4 linked regions of the Homo sapiens genome follow. The protein of the gene in region 2 interacts with the protein of the main gene of each other region in a pairwise test. Each region holds a gene or a part of one and is shown on either strand. Other genes may lie near its edges.

What was found.
Region 1: the proteins of C3orf52 (region 2) and HHLA2 interact in binary tests that used the Homo sapiens proteins (3 or more experiments, as listed by UniProt).
Region 3: the proteins of C3orf52 (region 2) and KIR2DL3 interact in binary tests that used the Homo sapiens proteins (3 or more experiments, as listed by UniProt).
Region 4: the proteins of C3orf52 (region 2) and KEL interact in binary tests that used the Homo sapiens proteins (3 or more experiments, as listed by UniProt).

The regions. Positions count from the first base shown.
Region 1 is NC_000003.12:108,299,541-108,306,578, reverse strand, and holds part of HHLA2 (HERV-H LTR-associating protein 2 isoform a precursor), read right to left. Parts: intron 4,095-7,038; exon of another isoform or gene 3,785-4,094; intron 1-3,784. UniProt on the Homo sapiens protein: Through interaction with TMIGD2, costimulates T-cells in the context of TCR-mediated activation. Enhances T-cell proliferation and cytokine production via an AKT-dependent signaling cascade.
Region 2 is NC_000003.12:112,082,307-112,089,415, reverse strand, and holds the start of C3orf52 (TPA-induced transmembrane protein), read right to left. Parts: upstream 3,028-7,109; 5' UTR 3,009-3,027; coding exon 2,871-3,008; intron 1-2,870. UniProt on the Homo sapiens protein: Has a role in LIPH-mediated synthesis of 2-acyl lysophosphatidic acid (LPA). LPA is a bioactive lipid mediator involved in different biological processes, and necessary to promote hair formation and growth.
Region 3 is NC_000019.10:54,748,506-54,753,583, reverse strand, and holds the end of KIR2DL3 (killer cell immunoglobulin-like receptor 2DL3 precursor), read right to left. Parts: intron 1,936-5,078; coding exon 1,831-1,935; intron 1,369-1,830; coding exon 1,316-1,368; intron 1,218-1,315; coding exon 1,065-1,217; 3' UTR 532-1,064; downstream 1-531. UniProt on the Homo sapiens protein: Receptor on natural killer (NK) cells for HLA-C alleles (HLA-Cw1, HLA-Cw3 and HLA-Cw7). Inhibits the activity of NK cells thus preventing cell lysis.
Region 4 is NC_000007.14:142,940,580-142,945,367, forward strand, and holds the end of KEL (kell blood group glycoprotein), read right to left. Parts: intron 4,163-4,788; coding exon 4,064-4,162; intron 3,822-4,063; coding exon 3,744-3,821; intron 3,305-3,743; coding exon 3,204-3,304; intron 3,018-3,203; coding exon 2,907-3,017; intron 2,765-2,906; coding exon 2,697-2,764; intron 2,466-2,696; coding exon 2,296-2,465; intron 1,951-2,295; coding exon 1,855-1,950; intron 835-1,854; coding exon 673-834; 3' UTR 535-672; downstream 1-534. Other genes in the region: sperm-egg fusion protein LLCFC1 precursor, read left to right, coding at 1-8. UniProt on the Homo sapiens protein: Zinc endopeptidase with endothelin-3-converting enzyme activity. Cleaves EDN1, EDN2 and EDN3, with a marked preference for EDN3.

The sequences.
Region 1 (7,038 bases), 3.8 Mb from region 2:
GAAATCTTAAAGAGTCCTATAATTATTAAAGAAATTGGATAGCAGTTTAAAACCTTCACACACACGCACAGAGGGAGAGAGAGGGAGAGCTCGAGCAGGCCCAGATGGTTTTCCAGACAAATTCTACCAAACTTCAAGGACAGCATTATTTAAACCCAGGAAAAGACTGTATGAGGACAGAAGATAATCTATTTCACTCAGGAAAAGAGATATGAAAATCTGGACAAAATGTTGTAAACCAAATCTAACAATATTAAAACAGATAATGTATTATGACTGTGCTAATCACGTTCTACAAGAAGCAGACACTAAGATGGGACACGATGTTCAAGGGATGCTAGTGAGGAAAATTCCTGTGAAGGATAAAGGGGGAAAGCAGAAGTGAGGAGAACTTTCCAACTGTGATGTTAAAGGAGAGAGGAAGGGTGGAAATGGAGTGAAAGGAACGTCAGGCTTGCAGCAGTTCTAAGAAAGTTTTGTTAGATGACTGGGGAACCCTTGCACCAAAGTCATCCATTAGAGGATTCCCTTGTTAGCCTTGCCACTGTGCTCAATCACTGAGGGAATGAATAATCAGTGGAGCATCAGCTGAGATCAGTCATGGCCATGACACAAAGGTGGTGATGATCCAGACAGCAGCACCTGGGGCTGCAATCACCCACACTCCCCACAGCAGATGTGAGCCCACATTTTCATGGCTGCCACAGTGACCAAGTTGGGTTTTCTCCAGGAATCCAAAGAAGATTTACCATTAGAAGATTTATAAATGTGATTTATCACATGTATCAGACCAAAGTCTGTGTGCCTCAGATTTCCTTGGCTCAAATGTGTCACTGACCTTAACTGTCACTGTGAGGCTCTGTTGAGTCATTTGCCCTGAGAGTGCCAAGCCTTCCTCCTTGGCCACCACCCAGAGCTGAGCCAACCAGGCATGTACCTGGAGTGTCTGGTTCCTCCTGATACTTCTGGAATGGAATGGAACTCTATACAGCAGGGCATGGGACTCAGCACTCTGAGCTGCTATTAAAGGGACTAGATGATGACATTGGGATATATGGAACTGCTTATTTCCTGTGAGGTAAATTTTAACCAACAGGAACGACTAGATCTGGGCAGATGAATCCCCCCATCTTCTTTCCTCCCGTGGAGGACTTTGAGGCACGGTTTTCTACATTCCCATTCAGAAAAGTCCTTCACACTGATGAATGCTACGACCAAGAGAATTGCTGGGTCTTTCTGACTACTCGTGAAGCAGTAGCCAGCATGGTAATCTGTCCGTTTACAAAGCTGCCCATCTTCCCTTGCCTTGCTTCCGCTTTCCTTCTCTCTCACAGCCCTGAGTTTTTAACCTCCCAAATAAAGCATCAGCATTTTAATCCTTGCTCAGGTTCTGTTTTCTAGAAAACCCAGGCTAAAAGCATATTAAGCAGATTAGAGTTGAAAAACCAATCATCTGAATCCATGCAGAAAAAAATAGATAATGTACAAAGTAATTGCAAATTCCTCATTGATGAGTAAAAGGTTTTAATGTGACAAAGAATATGTCTGAAAACCCTATAAAAACAGACAGAATCTTCAATGGGGAAACATTAGAAATAGTCCCTGTAAAAATCAATTATAAGGCAAGGATGCAAAGTCAACCAGTAATCCTACTCAGGCAGCAAATATGACAACATATTGTGGTAATCATCAATAGTTTACTAATGTGACTATTTATACAGCTGCAGGCAGGGTTAAGTGAAACTAACAAGAATGATGCTGTACCCCCAAGACTAGCAACATGGACAAGTACCCTAACATCCTGGGCTGAAGGAGCAATTTACCAGATCTAGAGAGATTAGCGATCTGCAGAACAGACCATTAGTAGGGAGGTGAAGCCCACTCTCAGACACAGTAGATTTGTGGTGTGTTGCTGAAGCCCTGAAAGTCCTTTCTAATATATTTGTAGTGGATCGACTGGTTGTTCTTCAAAATTTCACATCCACCTAGAACCTCAGAATGGGAGCTTATTTGAAAATAGGTCTTTGTAGATGTAATTAAGGTGAAGACTGATATGAAATCATACTGGATTAGGCTGTGTCTTAAGTCCTATGAGAGGTATGAAAGGAGACACAGACGGTGGCAGAGACTGAACTTATATTGACACAAGACAAGGAACACCAGGAGTCGCCAGAAGTTGGCAGAACAAGGAAGGATTCTCCCCTAGAATCTTCAGAAGTGTGGGCCTGCCAACACCTTGATTTTGGACTTCTAGCCTTCAGAACTGAGAGGATATGTTTTTCTTAATTTAAGCCACCATATTTGTGGTAGTTTGTTAAAGGAGCCTGAGGAAAGTAACACAATGCCTAAATTTGGAGAGAAATCTTTCTTCTTTCTTTCTTGACTGGGAAGGAGTAGGAAACAAATGGGAACATAAACAATGGCGTTGACATGACAATGGGAGCATAGCTTATACAATGATACATTGAACAGAGAGAAGCCACTCAAAACGCCAGTGCATTCCCCTTTAGAACACTACACACGCGTATACACACCACCAACTAAATGATATAAACATTGGAATGTGATATTCAGTAGGTCCAAAAATGAGAGTCAGTTCAATTATCTAACAAAAAGTTTATTTCCACCCCTGCCAATAACTCAGCCTAAGCAAATGAGAGAACACAAAATACCCAACCACCAGAGTCACCTGCTGTGAGGTGGTGGCGATGGTGGTTGCAATAATGGATTATAGGTCTCAGACAAAATGAGAAAAAAAAATCAAGAGCCCATCACGTACCTACTATGTCAGAACTGATTTAATTACCTGGCCACTAACTGGGCAAAATAAAAAACTGACATGCTACATAATATACACTATAATCCAAAATAGGTGGGGTACAGGAATGGCATGCAAGTGACCAAAAAATAAAGCCCAACCTGGAATAAAACAGTTCAAAGAACAGAAAGGAAAACTTCACTTAAATTAGGTCTATACCCTCTAGAAAAAAATATACAAAATAATTATATGTTTTATATTAGAAATTAATGACCAGCATATGTACACAACAAAACAAGTACTCAAAAACAAGCTAAACAAAATGATAGGATGAGAAGAGGATTGTAGATATGAGGAAACAAAATATGGACTAAAATTTCTAGAGATAACTAATAAGAATGTAGAGCTAGCAAAGTACAGAAGTGATATCACTGAAAGCCAAAGTAGAGGAAGATTTGTGATATCTTCATGAATTCAGATGAAAGAGATGAATGCACTAGATGAGGTTGAGCTATAGAACATAAATTGAATGCAATTAGATGAGGTTACATTATAGCACATAAATGACACAGTATTAGGATAATTGATATTGGCCCCTGAAGTCAAGAACTCATCAAATCAAGGAGTTGATACATAAATACAATGTAAGAAAACTTTTCTAAAATGAAGACAGAATTGAATCTGTTGATCTAAAGTTTCCACATTGTAGGAAAAGTTGATACAGAAAACTCAGAACCAAGACATAACTGAATTAAGCAGTTGAATGCCAAATAAGGGGAAGAAATATTTTACTTTTTTGCCTAAACAAGCAACAAAGAGATGGGGCATGGGTGGAGAAGAAAAAGAAGGTGCTTTGACTTCTCCACAAAAGACAACAGAGCATACCGAGTCCAGGATTTTTTTTAAATTTCCTATTAGTGTGTGCTGTTTTCAAGGAGACAGCTAGCCCAGAACAGAAAAGGCAGCACCAGGAGGCATTTCTAGTAAATGCCCTCAAGGAACTTCTTTTCCCCTCTCCCTTCCTACCTCTCCTCCCTTGACTTCAGGACTGTATTGCATAATCTCTCCTGTGAGTTAGGCTTCCAACAGTAAAACTAGGAAAAGGCTCACTGTAACCTCCGCCTCCCGGGTTCAAGCGATTCTCCTGCCTCAGCCTCCTGAGTAGCTGGAAGGAGAGTAAAGTAGCATTTGCTAAAGTCCATGTAGCAAGGAAATACCAAGGAAGTGTTCCCAACTTGAATTGGGGAAAATGAAGTGTTCCCAACTTGAATTAGGGAAAACAAAATGAAACTGAAAACTAATTCAAAAAAGTCGATTACATGACTTGAAGAGAACTGAATGTCTTGTACTGTCAGAATCAAGGAATCCCCACACGGAATTTGAACCAATCAAAATGCAATTAGCAGGGGAAAATGTTGAGAGAGATGTTAGTTAATAAAATGTTTGTCTCAGCGTACTGTCAGGAGAATAAGGGGTAGGAGGTTGAACCCTGGATGGTAAAATATTTACAGTTTCCAGTAATCATGGTTTCCAGGTATCATGCTATTTCAGACCTGTTATCGAAAGACTAACCCTCCTACTACAACAGAACAGAAAATGAAATCAGGTATTTTCTCTTTCAAACTCATTTATATACCATTTTAAAGTCAGACTGTTTAATCTTCATGTTAATATTCATTTCCCTACTATAAAAATCAGATCTATGTAACTCACAAGTATACATTCTTGTGTGAATTAGATTACTAATATAAATAGCAACACAGAAATCAAATCTAGATTACTTGTCTTATTTCCTAAACTATAGCATATCTCAACTTTCTTCTAAAATGAGAATATCAACCCACTACCTCAGCTCAGTTATGTGGATTACCTTTTATATTGTACAGGCAGCACACAAACCACAGAGCTCATAGGCAATACTTGGTAAATGCGAGTCACTCGAGTCACTCGGATGAAACCAATTTAGAAGCAGAAGAGAAACAATAGAGGAGTTAAGGTAGCAAGCAGGAAGAAGTGAAAAGTAAAGCATGCTGCTTGGTTCCAAGAAGAAAGGAGGAGGCAAGATGACCTTGAGGCTGCTTGAGTTGAGGGAGAAAGGGGTAGAATCCTTATGAGAAAAGATTACAAGAATTTGCCAAGCAGATTAAAACTACCACGGGCCACCCTCAACTTCCAAAAGGGAAAGAGAAACAATGCAGTCTCTCAAATTAGCCTACGGAAGAAAATAGGAATATAAGAGACAAGGACAATTGAAATAATTGGGGGCAGGGGAGGAAAATTGTGGTGGGGTGGGGAGGAACTAAGGGGTAAGAATTGAACTGGAGTTACCTTAATAAAAAAGACTGTAAGAAGATAACTCTAGAAGAAATGCCTCAAGAACAACAAACGTGTTTGGAATCCTCAGAAACGTAAATAAAAGTGGGAAAATAGAACCTATACATACTTAGTATTCAGTCATCTATTTCTGCAGTCACGTCTCTGGAATTCACAGGGAAGACAAAAGTACAGTAAAAAGAAGAGGTAAAAAGCTTTTCAAAGACAGCTTGCAGAACTATGTCAGAGCATGCAACACTAAAAGCACAAGAGTGAACAGGAATTAGAAATGTAATCTACAAAGCACACTTAGGATATAATGTTTTGCATATAAAATAAAACGCTAAATTCAATAGGGAACATTGGTTTGGAGGGCCTAGGTCTCCTCACACTCAAATTTTAAGGAGACTAACTCCAAGATCAGAAGACATAAATTAGAAGAGATATTGTGCATGTATAATTCCTTCCTTTCCAGTGAAAGGAAGAGAAAATTTCAGTGAAAATGAGAGAAAGGAAATTCTCTCATTTCATTGTACTGCTATGAAATATTTCAGCTGTGTTAGAAGCTAAACGTAAATATTTGATGTCATTAGTCATTTTTGATTACTCTCAATTCCCAGATTAAAGAACATTTAGATAAATATGACAGCATTATTAAAATAAAGTGTTTGGGAATTTAGATTTCTGTTACAAGCAATAAGAGCAACATCCTGGAACTGGCTTAGACAACAAAGGGAATCTTCTGAGAAACATAACTGAGGCTTCTAGGAGCCTCTGGCCAGCTCTACCCAGGACGTATGTCACTAGGTTTCACGTCTCTGCTTTGCCTCCTGTGGGTTTACCTTATACACAACCTAGCTTCCCTCGTGATAATGAAGTGGCTGTAGATGTTTCAGGCCTGACCTCACACACCGCTAAACCCAGACGAAAAGAACTGGAGCTTCACCAGCGCTTCTTATTAAGGAGAGAAGCTTATTTCCTGGAAGCCCCAGCAAACCATGCTTTTCCTATTATTGGCTCACCTGGTTTATATTCCTAATCTACCCATCACTCTGGCTTTCTCTACCCCCTAACTGGTTTCGTCTAAGAGCACTATTTTAATAAATCACTTGCACCTGAATCTTTGACTCATCAACTCCTTGTGGTGAAATCCTTTCTATGAAACAAAGGCATACAGTGAAACCCCATGGCAGGTTGTCCTTGAATTCCCTGGGCTGTTTCTTCCCACCCTGCCTCCTGTCTCTGCAAAAGCTGGTACTTCATGCTGTGAACAGGACGCTTGCTTACTCATCTTCTCACACACTGTCTCTCCCAGGTTCTGTGCTGTTTCCCCTCGACCCACCCAGCCTTCCCCTTCTGTTGGTCCTTTCAAACCTCTTCCTTGTGTACTCTGAAAACATCATTACCCAATAAACTGCCTGTTACCCAAAACCTGCTCAGATTCCTGCTGCTTTCCCTCCTCAGATGGAACTCAATTCTTTCCCCAAAGCGCCATTTCCCTATCTCCTTTTTCTTAAGAAGAGTTGCTCATTTTCCCGTCTTCTCGCCACACTGGAATCTGAAAATAAAGCTGGGACTCTCGTCATCCAACTGTGCTCTTTCCAAGCCATCGCTCCTGTACCTTTAGGGATTCTGTATCTCACTGTGAGAATCTAAGTTTATTCTAGAGTGACCCTTGCTCCTACACGAAATGGTACCTAGCGAATGTCAATAGTATTTGAGCTGGATAGGGCATATAAGGTTGAGTTAGAGTATAATTTGTACCTTTATGGGTCTGAAATATTTAAGAAATGCTTGCCACTTGGGTCATCTGAGTTTTCTATGTCCCTTCCTCCTCTCTTATCAGCAAATCTAAAACTCTAGGAAGAAAAAGTCAAGAACTCCAAAACTAGTTACTTTTACTCCACTCAGCGTAGCATTTCCATAGATTCCTGCACTTATCACCCAGAACTTTCTGTTCCACCCCT
Region 2 (7,109 bases):
GCTAGGATTACAGGCATGCGCCACCACACCCGGCTAATTTTGTATTTTTTTTAGTAGAGACGGGGTTTCTCCATGTTGGTCAGGCTGGTCTCGAACTCCCAACCTCAGATGATCCACCTGCCTTGGCCTCCCAAAGTGCTGGGATTACAGGCGTGAGCCGCTGTACCCGGCCTGAAATAAATCTTACCTGCCTCAAAACTATCAATTTACTGGTTTGTTATTATTCAAATGATGTTGCCATCTCTTAAAATGCCTCTGGGATTTCTATTTGAAAACTGAGCCCCTGTAATAAGCCATAAAAGAAAACCAGCCTCACTCTATTACCCATAATTTATTTTTCACTTTTGACCCAGCCATATTGCCATGTTTACAGTGACAGCAGGCAAAGTGGAGTTCAGTGGCTTCTATTCCTTTGTCTCAAGTGCCAAGCACACATCAAGAAAGGCAAAGAAGTTCCTTCTACTGCTTTTGTTCACTCTCCCACCACAGCTCTTCCAAGGAAGAAGAGAGATGTCTTCTTCCCAATCATTCCAGAACTGTTCCCGATTCCTCACCCATCCACCTGCAACTCCATCATTCCAGATGTGATACTCAACTCCTAGCTCACTTAAATTGCCTAATTATAAATTACCTAACTTATAGAAATTAGTAATAATTAATAACTTAGGCAACTATAAACAAATGAGTATAAATTATATATAACATATTTAAATTAAATGCTGATAGATAATAGATAGATAGATAGATAGATAGAATAAATCAACAGAAACAGCAAAGGTTTGAGATCTAAAAAACATACGTTCAAGCTTCAGAGGCACCACTGAGTGAACTTGAGGATTTTGGTAACTCCTCTGAGCCTCCCTCAATTTCTTCACTCAGCATCTTCAATCTGACAAACCAGAATACTGACGCCTTCCTCTTAAGTTAGTTGTGATAATTAAATGCATTTATGCATCAAAAGTATTTGTCACAAGACAGTTACTAAACAGGGTTAATGAAAATACATGGACTTCAGCTACATTTCAAAATTAGAAATCTTAATATACAGTTCAAAGAGACCAACACACAAAATTCTTAAGTGTCTGAATCTTTTTAATGAGCCTATATTTATTGACTTTTCTAACTGAAATACACTTCACTTTATTTTATAGGACAAAAGAGAATGATTAACACATTAGATGAGATTAGTTCAAGGCATTCCTTGAACACACTCCAAGTACTCCTGTAGCCCTTCACCTTCACTCCATCCTGTTACTGAGGACAGCTCTCCTATTGGGTGACCTACAAAGCTAACTTACAAAGAAGTCCAGGGTATCTGTATATACCTTACTAACAAGGACGTCATGAGAACATTAAAGAACCATTGCTACAGGGTAGGTGCTAAACAATTACAGAATACTGATAACCCTGCATGGATTTGGCTTGTTCTACCCACCACCTGTTTTCAACAAGGCATTCCCAGGCCTCACAGAAGGCCGAGTAGGCACACATTACCACTACGGGACAGGCTTGCCTCTGGGACACACTTCTTAGTGGCAAAACTGTCACCAGATTTCTGGATTCAGCCCCAAGCTAGGGAGTCTTTAGGGTGTGCGGGTCCATCTAATCTGAGGCAAGTATTTCCAACTCCCATTCCTGGACACCGCCCTGGAGGACTCATACAGCCAGTTCACAGTTGTGGCCACTTGCACTGGTGACCAGACTATCTTTGTTCAACCTTCATTCTTCTGTGGCATTCATATTTTATTCAGAAATAAGTTTCCAAATTACTCTCCAGAGTACCTATAAAAGCAGACTTTGCAATAGTTCCAGGAATCAATGTAGAACAAAAGCAATGCTTTCAACTTTTGAATTTCCTGCTTATCCCTAAAATCAACAGCTGGGCAGCCAAAAAGTTGGGGGTGGAGGAGTGGGGCCTAGAAAGATCAGGTCGGGGCTCTATATGGGGAGTTCTGTGCACCCAGAAAACCTCAAGCCAATCTTAGGAGTTAATCAGAAGGTGGATGGCTGGGAAGTCAAAGCTCTGATGTTTTACAAGTCTTTGATGAGAGTGAATAATGTTCCCATCATTGCTAGGGATGAATCAGAAAAGAGCTTGGCCTAAAAATAGCCAGGGACTTCCTTAGGGATTGAGAGGAGGTAAAAGCAAGGTGGGCGAAGTCTCAACCTTCGAGACAAGAACTTTGAAATTATTTTCTTTCAATTGAGCAGGGCAAGTTCACCTCCCCCGCGCCGACCCCCTAACCCGCCCGCCCCATCTCTACGCCAGCCCTACCCCTTCTCCCCTTCTGACCGCTTTCTCTCCTCTGTGCTCTCCCCTATCTCTCTTCCGGCAGAATCCAATGGCCAGGCTGGGAGAAGGCAGAAAGTGCTTGGCGGATGGTAGGCATGGAAGAAGGCTGGGGGCTGCGGCGAGGTGGGTGGAGGGGAGGGAGAGAAGTGGCAAGGCAGTGAAGGTAAGAGGAGGACAGAAGAGATTCTGAGAGAAGGAGGATACTCAATTTGTCATTCTCATTCTCCCTACTGGAAAAAAGAAAAACTGAATTAAAAGTTACATAACTTTAAAAAACTACTTCCATCTCCGGAATACCTCTCTGAAGACAGCAGCGGCCACACCTCACCACTAGGATTCCTAAAGCGCCTCGGGGGTCAGAGGGGTTGGAGGACCCCAGGGGCTGGGGAGGGGACTGCTCGGGCCGAAAGGTGTCGCGGTGACTCGGCTCCATTCAGAGCACTCGAGCGCGCCCCACCCTCGCTCGGCGCCGTCGACGCCCCGCCTGACTGGAAACCCGAAACTCGCGGGTGCCAGGCCCGGGTCCTACTACTGTCCCGCCGCCGGCAAGTTAGGGCCAGCGCCAAGGGGACCTTACCTCGGCCGGGGGGACCTCCTCGTCCAAAGAAGGGAAGACCTTGTCGGCACCATTGAGAGGCGTGTTCTCTTCTGGCTGCCGCTCGAGCACCGAGAGCTCCAGCTCGTCTACTGGCTGTGAGGGTTGGGCCAGGTCCATGTGCCGGCAGGGAAAGTCTGAGCGGCTCCGCGGGAGGCCACAGCGCCGGCGAGTCGAGCGACCTCCCCGCCTCACACTCCACCCACTGGGCGGGGCGTCGCGGACCTCGGGCGGCGGGAGCGGACCGGAGCGGACAGGAGGGGCAACTGTGAGTGGCGGCCACTCCCTGGATCCCGCGGGGTAGAGCACCTGAGGCCGTGCCGGAGTGGGCTCCAGAGCCGAAGGCTGTTTTTCTGATTTGTTCAGGGCGCTGCCTGCTATGCCTTTCCCCGCGCCTGCAGATGCAGACCATCTCCGTTTAGGGGCTGCCTGGGTGCCGGGCTGTGGTAAGGAAAGGGTGGGCCCGGCAGCACCGTCCAACGGAGAAAAGTTTGCGATCTAACCCTACGAACTGTTGGTTGTTGGGGTTTGCCACAGTCCTCGCGGCCTAGCAAAAGTGCATTCATTCAATCAACAAATAACCATGCCTCGTGCCAGCATGGTGCTAGGTTCTGAGTGCATGAAGGTGAATAATATACACCAACACACTTCCTCGCAAGTCCAGAGTCAGGCACAGAGACAGTATTGTGTGGTGCTGGGGACAGCGGACTCTAAAACCAGTGTACCTGGGTTATTCTCCACCCAGAGGGTTCCTCACTGTGAGACCTCGGTCTTCATCTCTCTGTGCCAACGTCCTCATCTGGAAAGTTGGTGTAATATTTGTACCCTCCTAAATGTAGTTGTTACCAGGATTACAAGGGTTGTTGTAAGCAAAGCACTCAGAACAGTGATTGACACAGCAAGCACTCATAAATGACCATTATTATTTATCTTTGAGAGGAGGGGCCTTACACACACACACACACACACACACACACAATGCACGCGCACACACAATCTCCTTGACACCCTATCTGTAGTTCAGAACTTCCGGTTTAGTTAGCATGGAATTATGTTTGTTAAGCACAGCATGGGTTGGGCCAAGGGCCTCAACTCTCAAGCTTCTGTTCCGAATAGTCTTGCTCCTTACTTCTCACCCTCCACGCAACACACACACACACACACACACACACACACACATTAAGACCAGACCATTAACAAGAAGCATATAAATCAGCTCCACTCCAAATATGTTGACTTGAGTCCAAAAGTCTGGCATCTTCAGTACCTGATGTTGAGACACAGCCTAGATATCCTGTCTCCAGCAGTCTGATGCCTGCTACCAGATCCCCTGAACTTTGGATCCATCTGCCTGCTAAGGGGAGTCTGCAGTGACTCATCTGCTGACCTGCACTGACTTCTGCTCCAACAGGTGGATCTTGCAAGAATCAGGCTGCATTCTCAGCTGGGATTTTTGAACAGGTTTTTTAACCAAGGAGCAAGGGTTAAGGGAATCAACAAGGCATGGTGACGTACCCAGGGACTAGCAATAGCGAGAAGCTGTTAACACTCCTAGGCCTAAAAGGGACTGGAGACTGATAAAGAACTAGAGCCATTGAAGGGTGTGGGAATTTGCAGGGAGGTCTTGATAGGATCTGTAGTCACGAAAACATGCAGACCTGACTGGAAGCACTGACACCTCTCAAACTTCTGATTCTCCCCACCCCCATCCTTACCCAGGGTCCAGAAAACTTTTCTCATAGTTCCCTTATTTGATTGCAGAAGTTCATCCTAAATGTGAGATTTTTTTCTCACTTCAGATGGATAGTAGCTATCTCCATGCCTGATTTCTCCATGCACAGATACCTAAAGCCTCCCTCACTCCCCCAGAGAATCAAAAAGCAACTGTTCCTGTCTCAAGCACACCCTAAACCACATCTTCTAATGCCTTTTGAGTACTGTTAAGCAAGGTTTATATACTCTGTAATTAGATTTAAATGCATTTCTATAATTCCATATGCCTAACCCTTGTTCTCATGTTACAGTGGAAGGAATATAAGTTCTGAAGGCAGACAGAACTAGGATCAAATTTAGACTCTCACTATCTGTGTGTTCTTGGGCAAGCTGTTCAATGTCTGCTTGTTTTCTTATAAAATGATTCCTACCTAGCAGAGTCAGGAAGATTAAGGTAAAGAATTTATTCCTGTGCCTGAAAAATGAAAGGATCTCAGTAAATGCTCCATTACATTCCCTGACTGTGTCTTTGTGGCTAATACCCACTCTCCCCCGACCCTTAGCACCCAGCACTAACCCTTGATTCAATATGTTTTCTTTTGATATTGGTTTTTCTTCCTGTGCTGTCCTATTTTCCTGATCACTGACACTTGCTGACACCTCCCATATTACCTGAACTAAATTCTTATTTGCAACCTGTTCCTGTTCCTGTTAACTGCAAATTTCTTAATCTCCAGACAGCTGACCTAGAATGCAGATGAGAGTCCCAACCCTACCTGAAGACTTTCTTCATCCTGCCAGTTTCACTCCACACTAAGGATTCAGAATAAGTTAGGAAGAGGTGTTTCTCCCTAGAGGTACAACCAAGTTTAGATTAAACGAGTCTGATGAAAGTCAAGAATTTGTGAATGAGGAACCAAACTCTACCTAGATTTGTTTTTGTAATTCCTTCAGAATTCATTTACATAAGGGTGGCTTTTTAAATATACTATTATTTCAAAAATAGATTTCTTTAATATAATTTAAAATTATTATTGACTCAATTGCTTTAGTTTGTTTGAAGTGTCTAATTTAAGTAACATTAAAAAATTAAAACATACTTATATTTGCTGACCAATATAAGATTTTTGATGTTGCTTTTTTTTAATAGTACTTGCTCTTCTTTTTAAATCCTTTTTAGAAGCAAATAATTTTCTAAATGGTTATCATATAAACTGAAAAACAAAGTAACATCATCAGAGTGATATCACCAATACACCAAAGGCATCTCATTCCCTTCAAATAGGTCTGTGACTCTGGAATACGCAACAGTTTGTTCCTGTGTGTTGTCAGATGGCAAGCAATACTACTCCGAACGTCAGCAACTGGGTCAGCCACTCAAGCTAATCAAGTAGAAAACAATTGAGAAATGGTTGCTTGTGGTGCTTCACTGTGCTATTTTCAAGGCACTGTGAAAGAAGGCATGAGTCCCTACAAGTTCTCCCTGATAATATGGCACGTGAAATGCTTCTGTCTTAATTTATGAAGGCCATTTTGCTCTGCTAACAAAACCATTCTTGGGACTTGCCTTACTTCACACCTTTGCAAGAATGAAGTGGATATTCCCACATCATTCAGGTTCTAAATGCATCTTAACATGCAATATCCAAGCAAGTTATGTTTGTTTTTCAACCTTTTCCCTGCCCCAGCACTGCTACAGCATATCGTGTACTCACTTTAATACCAGTGAGGGCCTATAGAGGTAGTACATACATGTGCTTTCAAAAACTCCCTCTGATGAATCTGATGGATCATGCCAGCCCTCCTCCATCCCCTAACCGAGATCACAGACTTATGCAAAGGTTTTCATGTATTTTGTGAAGAGCAATTCTATGCCCTAGAAATGACCATAAAGTAAAAAGTACAACTCACCTTGTATATAGGTCACAGCCATCCAGACAAAATAATGTAGATTATAAGAACTATCAGCCTAATTCGCTCTTCTATCCAGTGGATTCAGTAGCAAAGTCCTCCCTTTTGAATTAGTGGTACACTTGGCCCTCTGAATTGCACTATCGTATAGCCAGTTTACTGAAACCTTTGGGGCCCATTCATAGAGGTATTATTAAGATGCTTTATCCTTAATCTGAGGGAACAGTCTTTTAACAAATCAAAGTATATTCTATGAACTGAAAAATTTATCTGGCCTGGGAGATGACACCTTTTGCTCTCTCTCCTTTTGCTGTTACATTAAGATTTTCTAAGGTTCTGTGCATTATTCTATTAATAGACACTACCTGATGTTAGTATTTTTATTACTTCTTTGACTTTATAACAGGAAAACAAATAATATCACTCTTTTTTCTGTTGTTTTCACTCATTTGGTGGTACTATCAATTCTGGCTTCTGTTAATGAAAAGAATATTCTGAGATCAAGTATGAAACCTTCTAAATCAAGATAAAATAAATCAAGAACTAAGATACATTGAGAGTGTGCTATAGGCTTACAACTATGTAAGGTATTATAAG
Region 3 (5,078 bases), on a different chromosome or scaffold from region 2:
GTATACATGAAATCATCTCTTGATTACTTATAATTCCTGATACAGCCTACACACAGCTTCATTTGTGTCCATTCAACATAGTTATGAGTTTTGGAACTCTGTGGATATTTTCTCTGAATATTTTTGATTTATACTTTGTTCAATAAAGACCTGTAAACCCCACAGATACGGAGGAGTGACCGTATATTTATAGTATGAAAGATGATGTGTTGATATGTGTCCCCATGGAGATGAGACTAACAAGGCCTATGACTCTACAAATGTTTCATCGTGGAATGACTCTGCCAGCTTTCCAGGTCTGCAGAGAGTAACAATGTCACTTGTTCATGTGATTCCCGATCCTTGGAACCTCCTATGTGCTGCATCTTTGGATGGAAATTGGAGTCCCAGAGACAAATGAGGCTCCACACTGCTTCCAGAAGCTCAGAGTCCAGAGGTGAGAACCCGGTGGAGAACAGATGGGATTATATGGACATGGTACTGATAACACCGGAAGCCTTAGGCAAGAAAAGAGTCCCATTACCTAAACCATGAGGGCAGACATGTTTATTTGAAGGAGGGAAAACTACATTGAAATTATTTTAAAAAATATATAAGTTTTACTGCTGACAGAAGGCTGAAAGCTAGTCTGAGGGGAGGTGGAACAGCATGAGGGAAGGTGGAACAGCACGTGTCTAAGTGCCGTGTTAAGAGGGAGCCTCTTGTATGTTTGGAATTGTGAGTTCCTCAGTGTGATTGCAGCCTCAAGTAGACTAGGAAGTAAGCCAGTTAGGTTGGAGAGGTGGGCAGGGGTCAAGTGAAATGGAGAATTGTGGGCTAAGCAAAGGAGTGTGTTTTCTCTCCAGCAGGCAGTGGGGACCTTAGACATTTGTAAGCAAGGGAGAGGCACGTTCAGATTTGTGGTGTGAGGAAGAGCGATGCCCTAAGATGCAGACTCACGCCTTCAGATTCCAGCTGCTGGTACATTGGAGCTGGCAACCCAGTTTTGAGACAGGGCTGTTGTCTCCCTAGAAGATCCCCTCAAGGCCTGACTGTGGTGCTCATGGGCAGGAGACAACTTTGGATCAGGGCTCAGCATTTGGAAGTTCCGTGTACACGATGATATCTGTTGGGGGTGTCTTGGGCCTCTGAGAAGGGCGAGTGATTTTTCTCTGTGTGAAAACGCAGTGATTCAACTGTGCATATGTCACCTCCTGAGGGTCTTGTTCATCAGAGTCCTGGAGAGAGGGAAATGCTGAGTGAGGGAGGGTGCTCACATTTTCCAGGACTCTTTGGGAATAACACTAGCCACGAGGCTGGGCCGAGGAGCACCTACCTCCCTGTTCACTGTTCTGTTCCCTGCAGGCTCTTGGTCCATTACAACAGCATCTGTAGAAGACGGAAGTCAACAAAACAGCTCAGAGGGCACTTCTGGGCCCTCATTTCATAAGCAGATACCAACATACAGGGGGAGACCATAGGAGCCTGAGGTCCCTCAGTTGCCAACAGCAGACTCAGACATTCTATCTCTCTGAGCTCAAGGACCCATCCCATGAATAGCTCTGAGTTCCCATCCCATTGATTCTGTCTCCCACTTTCTGCCTGTCATGGAACCTTCTCCTGGATGTGAGTGGCTGCAGGGGACATGAGGATACAGTTCAGAATCAGGCAATGGTCTGTGAGCTGAAGGCAGGGACAGGGAGTCTGGTGCTCTCTCTAGAAAGTCCTCCCTCTGTGGCTGCTGCCTTGGGCCAGGGACCATCCTGTCTGTGAGGAACACACACCTGAGTGCTCCCATCCTGCTTCCCCACATGGCCCTGAGCTCTCTGGCCTCTGCTTCGTGAGACTTACTTTTTTTGTTGCAGCACCAGCGATGAAGGAGAAAGAAGAGGAGGAGGATGAAGAGGATGATGACCACTGAGGTCCCAATCAGAACATGCAGGTGTCTGGGGTTACCTGGAAGAAGAGGAGACACCAATAAGAAGCTAATCATAGCAGTTCCTCTTTATGAATTGTCTCACATTTCTTGATTGACAGGTAACCACATACAACACCCCTTTAGGACAAGCACCCAGATGGAGGGAGACCCAGCTTTCTCCTGCTTTCTCAGTTATAGCTCTCATAGTAACCATAGAACGTGTTGAGGATACAACTACTTTAGTTGAGATGTTTGACCCCTTCAAACCTCACATTGAAATTTCACCCCCACTGTGGGAGGTTGGGCCTCTTGAGAGGTGTTTGGGTCATGGAGGTGGATCCATCATGAACAGACCAATGCTGTCCCAAGGAGACGGGGTTAGCAAGTTCCCCTTCTATTAGTTCCTGGAGAGCTGGTTGTTCAAAAGAGCTTGGAAGCTCCATCGCTCCCCCTCCCCCTTGCTCCCTCTCTTGCCGTGTGATCTCTGTGGTCTCTGCACAGACAGACCCTCCTTCCCTTCTGCCAGAGTGGGAGCAGCCTGAGGCCGTCACGAGAAATAGATGCTGGTGCCACGCTTCCAGTACAGCCTGCAGAACTGTGAGGCAAACCAATCTCTTTTCTCTAGAAGTTACCCAGGCTCAAGTGTTCCTTTAGAGCAACAAAAATGGACTAAGACAGCAACGTCCTGAGATCAGGAGGAACGTCTCAGAACAGCCTGGGCTGTCTTCCTGTTCTTCCTGGAGGAGGACGTCATGCAGTGCTTTAGCTGAGTGCTTCCTGTGGCTCCACAGTACAAAACCCAGGCTGGGCTGCTCTCTGGCTTCCCCCAGCTACACTGCAAATGGGGTGACTCCATATGTCCCGAGTAGCTTTTCTGAGCCTTGAGGGACTGGCTCACATTGAAATGTAGGTTTCTGTTGTCACTCGCTGCTTATCTGTTAGTAATGAACCTGCCTGTGTAATGTATTCTCTGTGTGTTCTGTCTCCCTGGAGTGACGGTGAGTGATAGGAATTGGCATAAGCCCAGGTGCAGTCCAGGAGGTATTTAGAGTCTTCTCTGGGAAGACTGCACTGGGATTGATACACAGCGAATGTGCTTTAGGATTTCTACATCCACAGCATTCTTGAATCAAACAACTTGCATTCTCCAAGAAAAGGAAACAAAAGTGAAATCAAGATAAAAAAAGCTAAGTAGAATTCTCTTATGTCAAATGGCCAGGAAATAGTGTTGAAGCCCGTGTGAAACGTGCTACTCTTTGTGATCTCGGGAGACACATGTTAGGCTGCTGTTCTACCCGAGAGGCTGGGGGAAGGACCACCCCCTCGGCCATCTATTGCTTCAATACCACCTGTCCTCCTGTGAATTAGTAGGAAAGGGGAGCAGGAGCTAGTGCTGGCACTGATCTCTGATTCCAAGATCTGGACTCACTCCAAGGAGTATCAATGTTTACCTCCCCATAGCCTATCTGAATCTCCACAGGTGATTGGAAGTAGGGGTGAGGTGGGGGATTTGGGTGAGTGGGCAAGTTTTTTGTTGCGATGAACAGAGCACTTTCTCTATTCCACGATCTGTGCTGGAGGATTCTGAGGGCTTTCACATTTTCTATGTGATCTCATTCTCACAGAAAGCCAAATAGGGAAGAGGTTTTAAGCTCATTGCCTAATGGATAAGATAAAGGATCAAAGAAGTAATTATAGAGAAATAGAAAAACGATGATTGGAATTCAGGTGCCTTTGTCATTCGTGTGTGTTTTATTATATTTATGTATTTCTTATTTTTATTTTTTGAGATAGAGTCTCCTTGTGTCCCCCAGGCTGGAGTGCAGTGATGCAATCTCCACTCACTGCAACCTCCACCTACTGGGTTGAAGTCATTCTCCTGCTTCATCCTCCAGAATAGGAGCTGGGATTACAGGGATGCACCATCGTGCTCGGCTAATTTTTGTATTTTTAGTAGAGATAGGGTTTCACCACGTTGGCCAGGCTGGTCTGGAACTCCTGACTTCATGGAATCCACCCACCTTGGCCTCCTGCAGTGCTAGGTTACAGGCGTGAGCCACTGTTCACAGACTTGTATATTATGCTATAATAAGTCTCTTCATTTCCACCACCACTCATATATCTGTCACTCCTTTGCCAGGTATTGATTTATGTGTAGGATGAATAAATCTCAGAAAGAAATTAATTAAGCGAGGATTAAACAAGTAGGAAAATCAAACCCAGTAAGCGTTTCCAGTCAATGATTCTACCTCACAAACATATCTTATATCCATCTACTTCATTCATTTAGTGTCTAAATCAGCACCACATTTCACCAGTGGGGTGGCAATTGCCTTTTCCACGGTCTCCTAGATTCCAGTTATGCAACTGAGCCTCCCTTATTTTCATGTCAGTCATATTAATCATGTAGGGATTCCTGGTTACCCCGAGGTGAATCCAATGGCTGTGAGTGTCAAACACACACTCCTTGTTGCTCCTTAGTTTCCTGTGTACCCAGTGTGCTCTCCGTCTCTCTACAGTCGTCTTGTCATTCTCCCCACATCATTCCCAGCATTTGAGGCAGAGCCTCTTCCTTCCACATCAGATTGTTTTCACCTTTGTGCCTTCACGGCTGACAGCTGTGTGTGCAAAATCCTTCCGCCAATCTTTCAGGGGTTCAATCCGTGTTTTTCATTAATGTCACAAATATCTGAATAGTGAGACCTTCTTTGTCACCTGAAATCATACACTCAGCATTATCTATTATTGATTTTGAATTCTGGCTGGGCACAGTGGCTCACGCCTGTAGTCCCATTACTTTGGCATGCTGAGACGGTCGGATCACTTGAGGTTGGGAGTTTCAGACAAGCTTGGCCAACGTGGTGAAACATCCTCTCTACAAAAAATATACAAAAAGAATTAGCCGGGCACGGTGGCAGTTGCCTGTAATCCCAGCTACTCGAGAGGCGGAGGCAGGAGAATCACTTGAATCCAGGAGACGCAGGTTGCAGTGAGCCAAGATCGTGACACTGCACTGTAGCCTGGAAGACAGAGGGCGACTCTGTCTCAATAAACAAAAGAACAAACAAAAAATAGATTTCATGCACAGATGCTTCCCAATGGATCATTCATTTATAGATCCACTTGTGCATTCATTTTCTGCCCTCCCATTTAACCATCTGCAATATCAGTGTCCCAAGGG
Region 4 (4,788 bases), on a different chromosome or scaffold from region 2:
CTCACTGACCCTCCCTCCCTCCTGGGCTCCAGGTCACAACTCCCAAAGGAGATGCAGGCATGGCTCTCTGCCTCTGATCACCATCACTGTATCTCAAGGTTCAGCAGCAGAGATACCAGTTGCCATCAGTGCTAACTGACTGCCTCTCCAGGTTCGGAGTTTCATCTCCCAGGGCCAGAGACAGCAGACCCACATCCTTCTCTCCCACACCTCTCCTGGTTTTGTTCAGGACAGCAGATTAGAGGCAGGAGGCAATGACAATAAAATAACGATAAAATCCTGAGAACAATTGGGAGCAGCTTTCCGATACTTAATCCAAGCCCTTCTCGTCTCCAACTAGACTGCTTTATTGTCCAATCTTTGGTCCACTGGGTGGCCTTCAAACCCACCAGGTCACCAATTGTTGATTCTTTCCTTTTCTTGTGTCCATGAAACATTTTTGGCATTTCTCCCTCTTATCTTTTCTAACTTCAGGGTATTTTTCTCCCGTACAGTTAATGACTTCCAGGCATAGAACATAGCAGGAACAAGTCATTAAGAGACAAGCGGAAGCCAAGTGCCAGCTTTTATTTTTGGAACAGAAGCAGAAAGGAAATCTTGCTCTGATTCCATGGATGTGACCAGGGAGGTGTTGGTCGATATTTCTGTGCTGTGGCATCTTTGGTAACCAAGTTACCAGAGCTGGCAGCGGCTGGAGGGGTTCAAGAGAGCACCACGTGCACAGCGGAAATACCTGGCAAAGGCTGGGGTGCTGCTGAGGGGCCCGTGGACTCGGAGGTGTGGAGGGCTGTGAGTGTCGTGAGAGTCCTGGGGGCTGGGCTTCCTACACATCACCTGAGCAGGAAGAGAGGTCATTGAAGGGGGAGGGTCCACAGGACAAAGCTGACCCGGTGACAAGGGGTGATCAGGGACAGCAGACAAAGAGGGGAACCAGGGGATCAAGTGCCCCAAGGGCCACATGGAGCATTTGAAATGTATAGTTCATTTAATCTGGCAATAGGAGTCCAGGAGGAGGGCCTGGGCTGTGTAATGATACCATTTATCAATGACAGAGAGGCAGGGTCTAGCGCAGGAGCTCTGGGGTGAAGTCTAATCTAAGCGTGTTGAAGACCTGGCACCTGAGTCTGTTGAGGGAGTACAGGGTGCTTAAGGAGGTGATGTCAAGTGGGCGCCACACCTAAGGTCAGGTGTCTGAAGAGGAATGTGGCACACAGTCAGCCTGTCGCAGGCTTTTTTTTTTTTTTTGTGAGACTGAGTCTTGCTCTACCACCCAGCCTGGAGTGCAGTGGCATGATCTTGGCTCACTGCAACCTCCGCCTCCCAGGTTCAAGCGATTCTCGTGCCTCAGCCTCTCAAGTAGCTGGGATTACAGGCGCCCGCCACCAAGCCCAGCTAAGTTTTGTATTTTTAGTAGAGACGGGGTTTCACCATATTGGCCAGGCTGGTCTTAAACTCCTGATCTCAAGTGATCCGCCCACCTCGGCCTCCTAGAGTGCCAGGATTACAGGTGTGAGCCACTGTGCCCAACCACAGGCTCATTTTTAAGGCATCTGTATTTTGGGGGTATGAGAGGAAAAAAAAGTTGGTCTCCTCCTCTCCTGGAGGAACTTGGGAATAGAGTTTTTTCTACCTTTTGAGTTGTGGGGGTGCTGAACTAGGTAGAAGAACCTGTAGTCATCTGAGGGGTGATTCCAAGGGGTAGGGAGGGAAGAGAAAAGATAACAGTGAGGACATCTGCAGAAGAGGGTTTGGGGTATTTGACGGAGTGTCTGAAGAGGGGACTTCCATGAGCTTCAGTAATAAGGCGTTCAACTGACATAAAGCAAGCTGTGGCGGGAGGTGGCCGCTGCCTACCTGGGCATAGCTTCGAAAGAAGATCTGCTGGGGGCTGAGGTCCAGGCTGGGCAGGACAGTCTCCCCATGGTGCCGTAACAGCCTCTTGCTGTATGCCTGGGTAGGGGTGGGTAGAGAAGGGCCATCAGGCTCTAGACCTGTGGCCATTTGAAAGTCCCTCCACACAGTACCCAAAACCCATGGCCCTTGCTCACTGGTTCTGCACTGACTAGTTGATCTGAGCCAGAAGAAAGAGTACTTCCCAGAAGACCTATAGATGTCCTAAAATGGAGGATCTCTGGGGTAGGAGGGGGATCCCCAAGTTGCCGTCTATTCAGTGGGGATGCGAAGGGCAGAAAGCCATGCAACTGTACTTGTGTCAGGAATGGTGGAAGGAAAACTTGAGGACATGTTTTCTAGTCTGCCAGTACACATAAACTGTGGCCCTTGACACTTGCATACCTGCAGCGCGATGGCTAGCCCCCCAACGTCTGCAGCATTCTCTAAGAATGTGAGGGAGTCATTGAAGGAGGTTCTGCTAGGTAATGGAAAGGCAGCATAATGGCGCTTCAGGCACAGGTGAGCTTCCTGGAGGGCATGGTTGTCACAGGCGAGGCAGCCCCCAGGCAGTACTGTTGAAAATGGGACAAGAGAACATACAGCAAGAGAACATAGGGTTGGTGCTGCCTAGGTGAGGATGTGGGTGGTACCACAGACTGAATCAGCTCCCAGGAGCATGGCAAAGTTCCCAGGACTGCCCCACCTCAAACCCTCAAATAACCTCCCTTTCCCCTCCAGGCCTCCCTTGTGGTCTTCCCTTAGGTTCCCTATTATCCCACCTCCCAGTGGCCCCTGTTACCCACAGAGCTGGTAGAAGATGTGCAACAGCTCGTGGGCCATGATGCTGCCAGCAGCGCCAAAGTTCACGGCTCTAGGGAGACAAGGGCTTATTTGACCCCCAGAATCTCTCAGCATTTGTGACCCCAATTCTCCAACCGTAAGTCCCATCCATCATAACACCTGTCGGCCCCTCTTGGGAAACTCCCTACCTACCCTTACAGAGTGACCCATACCTGGGATAGCCAGGGTGGAAGAATGGGGGTTGGAGGAGTCCAGCTGGAAAGACTACCACATGGTCAGATACCGAATAGTAAGCATTGACGTCCCAAGGGGACACCTTCCACCTGTGGGAAGAGGACATGTGAACTCCAGCCCCCACCACGTATTGCCCTGCCACCCTGAGACCTACACAGTCCCTCCCAACTACCATTACTGTTCATGCTGCCTGCCCTGAGCCCTGGCTTCCTTTCCTGTGAATCATGGATGGGTCTCTCTGGGATGGAGTGCCTGTGTCTCCCCTGCTGTCATACCTGTGTTGGGGGTGAGGCTGCAAGAAGCTCTGGACAATTCTAGCTCGGAGGGACCGGACACAGCTCAGGACAGACTGCAGGAAGCTCGATCCAAGCTGTATCTGGGGAAGAGGCAGGAGGTGACTTGGGCACACAGAGACTTCTATAGATGCACGCTGACAAACACCAATGGGACCATTTGACCCCAAACAGGCAAGCCCTGACAGGCAGGCATCCAGGGATTAGGAGAGAGCAGCCCAATGGCATCACTACACAGCACACCCAGGCTTTACACATATCAGCACACAGATGAACACGCCCAGACAAGTCACAGGATGCATGCATGTGTGTTGGCACATGCGTTGGGACCTGAAAAGATTCTGTTCTTCTGCCAGCAAGACGTACAGTGTGGATATTTCCCCATCAACCCCAGCCAGCACCAGAGTAAGGACAGAGCTAAGTCACCCAGGGAAAACTGATTGTCCAACAAAGACTTAGGAGGGTCAGAGAAGTGACGAGAAGTCAAGGACTGAAAAGGAGCTGGAAAACACAGGGACCCACATCGTTGTATTCTTGTCGGGCCAGCTCTGGCTTCAGGGCCCATTCTGAAGCCCCCATCTCCACCTGCAGTTGAGCAACCTGGAGAGAGACACAGAAGAGGCTAGGAATACTCTCCGAGTCTACCAGAGGAAATTTCTCCCACTCGTTGCCCTGTCCCAGCCTCTCACATTGTTGCCAGTGTGAGTATACAGCCCAGTGGCTTCCCTACTTAGCATGTGCCTGGGGGGGCCTTTGGCATTTGCTTCCAATCCCCATCTCGCTTGTTCCAATACTCCATTCCCTGCACAGGCTCCCACACCAGCCAGGACGCCTGGCCTGACCTTGTCCTGGGCCATGTTCTGGGTCTCCTCATTCATCCAGGGAAGGTTTCTGAGGCGAGTGATGAGGGCATCCCGGATCGCAGTGAATAATTTCATGGCCTGTGGGAGTGAGGTCCAGGGACAGGGGGACAGGATCAGGAGAGGCCTCAGCCTGGCCCTGCCCACAGCTTCTGACCCTTGGAAAAGGGCTTGGCCCCAAGGAGCTGCCTGGGCTGGAGCTGCTGCTAGAGGAGCAGCTCAACTAAAGCAACTAAAGGATCTGTGGAGAAAGGAAGGCAGTGCCAAGCCCACAAAGGGAAGGTGGGGCCTGGCCATCCGTGAGGGCCATCAGGGAGATATAGTTCCTTTCCATGGGGAAATAGCCTGACACAGGAGAAAGACAGTGTCCTCACTCCTGGGGGCAGGAACACCTCTCAGAAATCAGAGGGAGGAGAGGGCTGTCATTTTCTCCTCTGGCTCAGGGCTCTTGTTCTCACACTGTCTTTTTTAAACCGTCCACTCCCTCTCCTCATCCTCCTGAGCTCTTCAGCTTCCCAGCAAGTCCCCCACAAGTCTCCCTGCCTTCACAACGTGAGTGTGTACTCACTGCTTCCCCAGCCACCTGCCATCTCATGTAAATCCTTTCCTGGAGGAAAATGAAAGGCAATATCGAGAGCCTGGGCTCTGGCATCAGAATGCCTGAGTTCAAACCCTGTCTCTGCTTTTTGGTAACTGTGTGACTTTGG